Linked DNA regions of Homo sapiens. The protein of the gene in region 1 interacts with the protein of each later gene in a pairwise test. Each region holds a gene or a part of one and is shown on either strand. Other genes may lie near its edges.

Region 1 (3,748 bases):
GCACGAAGCTGCATCTGCCCTTGTGAGGTACACGTGCCCAGACAGGAGATATCCTCTCATTCTTCACCCACTCTGCCCCACAAGACCCCAGCAGCAGCACCAGGTCCTCCAGCACAGGAAGCAGGCAGCCCCAAGACAAGCTTGAGCTGTCTTAAACCACCTTCTCTTCTCCTTGATCGTTGGGCTGTTTCTGGGAGCTGGGGAGGGAAAGTTGCGGTGGGTGTTGATGGAAACATCATTCCAATTTCTCTATCACATGACCACTACTCTTTCAAATCCTACCCCCTCCTTCACACCCACCCCTAGGTTGGCATCCTCTGCCTGACCAAGTTTCTTAAACACCAACTTTGCTAACATTACCGAGGGTTACTATCAGAGAACATTCAGCCATCTGAGGTACTTTCAAAGCATGTAAAGTTGAGGGGCCCCAGGATTCTGGAAGAAAAGATTGGTTTATATGGGCTATGAGGAATCACAGCAGTAACACCCACTCTTGGGGGAGTAGTGGCTAACACAACTCCCTGCGTATTTCAGGTGGAAAGAATCAGGCCCAAAAAGATTCCTACAGCTTGTTATCTTGTTGAATGATCAGGGGGAAGTTATCTTATATTCTGGCTAAGATTCATGGGCTAAAAGTAACAGAAAAGTGACTGTTCATTACAAAGTTATAAAGATAATGTGAAAATAAACATCCAGGATGTTTTCTTCTTCCATATTTTTGCCTCCCGCTGAACATACTTGCCTAGATTGTTACAATTATATATATGGAATGCCCACCAGTGGTCAATCCTCCTCCTACACATCCCTGGACAGAGCTCTCAGATAGTTACCTCTGCATTGGATTCCTCCATCCTACATTTCAACCCCTCTGGTTGCATGGCCCTGGTCTTCCAATGAGGACTTAGGTGACTCTGGAGAAAGCAAAGCCACCCCTTTGTGACATAGCAGCAGTAGAAACAATTCAATCAAGAGGACTCCACTAAGGAAACAGCTGATTGCAGGCAGGAGGAGACCTGAGACTCTATAGCCTGTGAGGACTTCACCAATTCATTGACTGAAAAAGCATCTATGCCCATGGCCCCTACATCTGTCTTTGATGCATAGCAGGGCTTAATTCTCTTGACAGCTCCAAATAACTCTGTACCCCTTTGTCCACGGATGAGGTTTTCTTCTCATGGATTCATTCTTATGCATTTGATTTCAAGTCCCAGTTCTAATTCTCCCCCAGAAATCCAGAGTGATTGCACAACACTAAGCACCAAAAGATCTCGTTTTGAGAAGGCTGGGTTACTTCAGTGTATCATAGAAACTTGGAATGTTAGGACTGGAAGTTCTTACCAGATCATCTGACCCAGCCACCTCATTCATGGGAAAAAGAACCCAAGGCCCAGAGGGGCTATGTGGCCTTCCCCAGCACACCGCCTGCTGGCACCCAACCCAAACTATAATCTGAAGCCCTGACTATCTCTGCTTATTCTACAACATCTTGCTAGAGTTTTGAAGGAGGAGATGGGGGGTTATTCTGGCTAACACTGATAGGTTACATCCTTCTGTGATTATCCCTACCTGAGGTAGAACCACACTGATTGGAATTTCTAGGCTTTCAGATCTGGTATCTCTTTTTCTTGTATAATTTGGCCTTGAGTGCTGTGGAAACGAGAAAAGAAGAAGATTACTGCTTCCCAGCTCATCCTCTGGGCCTCAATTGCTCGCCTAAAAAACACAGAACTTTCTACTCATTTATTTCTCTCTTGTCAATTATGTACAATTATGAAAGTCTGAGTCTGAAAGAACGTGTAGATGATATCTGGCATGATGGTTTATCAATCTCTGAACAGATATTAAGCTAGATATTATAGTTGATGTAAAAGGCTTTTGAAAGTTTTTGAAGTGGAGATAGCTGTACCTGCTTCCCTGTCTAAGATGATTATTTCTATCTCAAGTAAAAAGCCATACCAATGTGAGTTGCCAGGTATAGGTCCTATGCAGAAGTTGGTCACCAAAACACTCAGAACATTCCAGAGGTGACATCACAAAACAATATGGTGTTTTTCAGGGCTCATGGTTTCTCTCTGAGCATCACAGGTGGGAATGAGGCATCTGACAGGCAGGAAGAGCTTGTGGGTGCTGTGACTACTTGGCTGGTCAGGGTCAGTGTGACACACACAATAGCCCAAACATTAGCCCCCTGTTGGGTCATTCCAGCTGCCATTCGTATTCTCACTGCCAGGCTAAGTTGAGATCCCTATTCTCTCTCCAGAAGTGGCATCTTCTTGGAGTTGGGTCACTCAAGAAGAAAGAAACACAAACTGAACTCTTCCCATACCAAGGGAGAAAGTGTAGTCTGAGGTGTTTTCTGACACTACTCAATTCCTTAATTCTCTGACACCAACTGTGTGCCCTACAATTCAATTTCATCCTGATGCTATCTACCAGAGTTAGTGTTACAGAGCTGAAGCGGCTCACTACCCAATGCAATAGAAGCCAATACTAAAACACTAAGTTCTTTAAAAAAGAAAAACTTGTATATTGAAAGTCAACTCCCAAGGAGACAAGAGTCAAGCTCAAATCTGTCTCTCTGTGCTGACATTAAGGTAGTATTTTTATTAGAAAAGATTCAGGGGGTGGATTCTGAGATTAGTAGGTGATTGGTGGATGGAAATGGGAGGTCTGGAAAGTCCCAAAGAGTAAGAAACCAGTTACTTAATTTTTGAGTTTCAAGATAGCAGATAAGAAAAGAAACTTAAGCCGCTGAAACTCCCTCCACTTGTGAGATCAAGAAAAACCTGGCTGAAACTGGTTGGAACCAAGATGGCTAACTGGAGCTTGCACAGAATAAGCTTGCTGATGTCATAGCCTGAATTTCCACCACGTTTCATACTAACTCTCCCTGAATTTGCCATGCAACTCAGGAGTTAACATGAAGAAATAACTATGCATGCCCAAGGACTTTCCAGACCTCCCTTTTCCTTGCACAAATCACCTACTAATCTCAGAATCCACCCCCTGAACCTTTTCTAATAAAAGTACTGCCTTAATGCCAGCAGAAAGAGACAAATTTGAGCTTGACTCCTGTCTCCTTCAGAGGTGACTTTTAATATAAAGCTTTTCTTTTTTTCAAAAATTTGGTGTCAGTGTTGGCTTCTAGCACATTGGGCAGTGAGCCCCTTTTGCTTGTTAACAAACTAGAACCCCAGGTGAGACGAACAGCCTGTCCAAGGTACTGTTGCCCCTAGTGGTGTGCAGGCCCCCTGCACTGATCCTGAGTGGCCACCTAGACCAGGGTGTCCAGAGGCTCGACTATAGGGTTCCTTCTTCTCCACCATGGCACTTCAGGCTCCCTTGGCACTTCTCTTTTGGGAAAATAAATTGCTTCTGGATTAGACATCTTTCTGGTGAGTACCTTGTTAATATGCCCCTGTACTTTTAATTGTCTTTGAACTCATCATAACGACTGTGGGTTCAAGTCCCACCCTGTGGTTTAGGATTATGGATGAGAGTCCCAACCTTGTCTAGGATTGTGGATTTGAGTCCTACCCAAGGGGGATTCTGGTCAGTTCAGAGTCCCAAATCTGGTGTATGTTTAAGTCCCAAAGAATTAAGGCAATACTAAAAAGCTACAGCCACTAAGATAATCTAGTCTGGTTCTGATTTTTGTTGGTCTGTCTGTATTTTTGGTCTGTGTAGCAATATTTGGCTTAACAGAGGTCAAAGACTGTGATGGCTACAGCAGAAGCCTTATGAGATC
Region 2 (3,748 bases), on another chromosome or scaffold:
ATGTTTGGACCCTGACTGCCCACAGCTGTTTAATGCAGCACTCTGGAGCATAGTGACCGCAGACTTGGTTAGATTCCAGGGCTCTGTTTCACTCTTTCGGCGCTTGCTAATCACACTGCACATTACTTGATATTTCAGTAACTCTTGTGGTTGTCAGTGATTCTTTCTGAGCTGTCATTTTTGTTGATAATTTTTTTTTTTTTTTTTTGAGACAGGGCTTTGCTCTGTCACCCAGGCTGGAGTGCAGTGTCATGATCATGGCTCACTGCAGCCTCTACCTCCTAGGCTCAAGCAATCCTTCTGCCTCTACCTCCTGAATAGCTAGGACTACAGGTGCACACACCGTGCCCGGCTAATTTTTAAATTTTTTGTAGAGATAGGGTCTTGCTGTGTTGCCCAGGCTGGTCTTGAACTTGTGGCCTCAAGCAGTCCTCCCACCTCAGTCTCTCAAAATGTTGGGATTACAGGTGTGAACAACCATGCCTAGCAATTTCATTTATAAATGCCTCATTTTCAGCTGTGTTTTCATTAGGTCTTTTAGGAGAAAATACTCTGTTCTGCACAAAATTGTCTAGGTTCTGAGTCATAATGATCTTGATGTTTTGTTTCATTTTCTGTTGCAGATGTTGCTGCTATAGCATGTGGTCGTGAATTCTTGGTTAATTCAAGCCGGGTGCTCTTGGACACCATATTGCAGCTTCTGGGAGACTTGAAGCCAGGACAGTGTACCAAACTCAAAGTGTATGGTGGATAATGTTAAAAAGTTAATTCTATTTACATATTAATTAGACTGTGCTGATTGGGCCTCTCTTCAAGTAAACACAGTTAATTTTGGTGGTAGTTTTAAAAACTAGAAGAAATAAATTCCTGGAGAAGTTAAGGGCGTGCACTGTCTCTTAAATAGCATTTTAGAAAATAAATTTAAGGAAGGAATGTTCTCACCTTAGAGCAATCAGTGAGTCCCAGTATTATCACATGGTACTTCATGGGTATGTCAAAATGAATTTAAATAGGTATCTGTCTTCCAGCTACTAAAATCTGTATTTGTTTTCTATTTTTATGTAACAAATTATCACCAACTTGGTGGCTAAAACAACACCATTTATTATTTCATAGTTTGGCAAGTCAGAAGTCTGAGTGGGTTTGAGAGGTTCTCTGCATAGGTCAAAAGTGAGGTGTTTTCCAGGGTGGGATCTTTTCAGAGAATCTAGGGGAGGAATCTGCTTCTGGGCACTTTGAAGTGGCTGGTAGAGTCCAGTGTCTTGGTTTCTAGGAGCGAGTTCCCTGTTTCCCAGCTGGCTGGTCAGCTGTGGGTCAGCTGCTGAGGCAGCTTGCATTGCTTCTCACAGGGACCCCATCTTCAAGCCACAGTCGCTCATTGAATCCTTCCCACGTTTCCAGTCTCTGAGACTTCCTCTTCTGCTACCAGCAAGATGAAACTCTCTCTGCTTTTATTCTTTTGTTAAAAAGTTTACTTCAAGAAGGCAAAAACTCTGCTTCTTATAGATTTGTGTGTTTAGATGAGGCATACCTGGATAAACTCCTTTTGATTAACTCTTGAGTCAGCTGGTTAGTAACCTTAATTACATCTACAGAATCCTCTTTTCCAGGCAATGACATAATCAGCGTGTGATAATTTATAGTCCCAGAGATTAGGGCAGGAAATCTTGGGGAGAGGGGCAGTGTAGGATTCTGCCACTCACACTGTTCGTTCTGAGTGTTGCCTTTGACTTCTTAGAGCATCTTTATTTTTTAATTATTTTTTTAAAGAGACCGAGTCTCTACAGACCTTGCCTAGGCTGGCCTCAAACTCCTAGGCGTTCAAATAATCCTTCCACCTCAGCCTCCTGAGTAGCTGGGACTACAGGCATGTGCCACCATCCCCTGCTGTGGAGCACTTTTTTTTTTTTTTTTTTTTTTGAGACGGAGTCTTGCTCTGTCACCCGGGCTGGAGTGCAGTGGCGTGATCTCGGCTCACTGCAAGCTCCGCCTCCCGGGTTCACACCATTCTCCTGCCTCAGCCTTCCAAGTAGCTGGGACTACAGGCGCCCGCCACCACGCCCAGCTAATTTTTTGTATTTTTAGTAGAGACGGGGTTTCACCGTGTTAGCCAGGATGGTCTCAATCTCCTGACCTCGTGATCCACCCGCCTTGGCCTCCCAAAGTGCTGGGATTACAGGCGTGAGCCCCTGCGCCCGGCCTAGCACTTTTAAAAAGTAAGAGCTTCTGTAAAGTCTGTGCCAGGTGCTTCCAACACCTGTGTCATCCTGGCCTCGGTGTCTCTTGATTGTTTTTTCCCATGAGAGTTGAGATTTTCCTGTTTCTTCATATGCCAAGTAATTTTGGATTTATCCTGGACATTTACGTGATCACTGGTCTTGTTTAAATCCTTGGGAAATGCTGGTGTTTATATTTTCACAGGCAGTCAACCCCTTTGGGTCAGATTCCAGCCAGCCTTTTCTCTGTTTGGTTTCAGTGTGTCGTCCTGTTTTCAGAGTCTTTACAGTGCTATTGGAACTGCCCCTCGTGAGTGCCGCCCAGTGGCCAGTCTGAGACCTGGGTGGTCTGGATCTTAGGTTCAGAGTCTTTCAGATACTGTTTATGATCAGATCCACACAGGCACAACTTGGGATGAGGCCAGGAATTTATAAACAACTTTTTGGGGTCACTTTTCTGAGCTGTTAACTCTCTGGGTACACTTTAGTTACCTGGGACTGCCTTTTTCAGTCCCCCACCTGGAATGCTGGGGCTTCATATACCCTGCTGTGTCCAAGTGCCTGCAACTCTGCCCTCATCCCGCCCTGCGGCAGGAGTTGAGAAGCTCTTAGAGCTTTCAGGTGTAAGGAAAAAATTCCTTTCCCCCAGAGTTTGAGTTACCTGGGGGATGTCCCCACTGCTACCGTGCTTGGTTGCTGGCAGGAGACCCCTTTCCCACTCCTTGAGCCTCACTAGAGACCTTCTCCTGGTGCTCTCTGTGTGGCTCAGGGCTACTTTTGGGTTTTGGAGCTCCCTCGAGTCCAGGCCAGGGACACTAAAGGAAAAAGTGGTAAACTCTCTGCTGGTTTAGTGGTTCTTAAAATTTTGATCTTCTTCCCCTATCTGCCTGCTACTGTTTACTTTTCAGAGTCCTCAAATAGCTGCTTCATGTATTCTCTTTGGAATTTATAGCTGCATTCAGTGGAAGCGAGACTGGAGGGTGTGTTCAGGCCATCTTATCCAGAACCAAGCTTTCTAGTCCATTTTAATATTTTGTGCTAACAAATATCTATACATACATAATACATATAATACAGTGTAACATATATGCAAAAAAAATTTTTTTTTTGAGACAGAGTCTTGCTTTGTAACCCAGGCTGGAGCACAGTGGTATGAACATGGCTCACTGCAGCCTCGACCTCTTAGGCTTAAGTTATCCTCCCAGCTCAGCCTTCTGAGCAGCTGGGACCGTCAGTGCATGCCACCATGCCTGGCTAATTGTTAAATTTTAAAAATTTTTTTGTAGAGACGGGGTCTCTCCATGTTGCCCAGGCTGGCATAGATGGTTTTGTTTGGGGGTATAATTTTACAAATTGCTTGTGGATCTAGTTCATTCCTTTTAAGTACCTTGCATCAAAGGAGATGTAATATTTGGATTATCCTTCCCTGACTGATGGGCATTTAAGTTACTTTCGGGTTTTACTTGACAAATATAATGCCGTAGTGAGCATCCTTGATAAACTCTTTGCTAACCTGTCTGAGAGTTCTCCAG

Evidence for each region. Proteins that work in one complex are often made in the same cells at the same time.
Region 2: the proteins of CBY2 (region 1) and HSF2BP interact in binary tests that used the Homo sapiens proteins (3 or more experiments, as listed by UniProt).

What each region holds. Positions count from the first base shown.
Region 1 is NC_000013.11:45,700,674-45,704,421, reverse strand, and holds the start of CBY2 (protein chibby homolog 2), read right to left. Parts: upstream 2,103-3,748; 5' UTR 2,032-2,102; coding exon 1,957-2,031; exon of another isoform or gene 1,907-1,956; intron 1,648-1,906; coding exon 1,567-1,647; intron 912-1,566; coding exon of another isoform or gene 831-911; intron 1-830.
Region 2 is NC_000021.9:43,610,823-43,614,570, reverse strand, and holds part of HSF2BP (heat shock factor 2-binding protein), read left to right. Parts: intron 1-623; coding exon 624-741; intron 742-3,748. UniProt on the Homo sapiens protein: Meiotic recombination factor component of recombination bridges involved in meiotic double-strand break repair.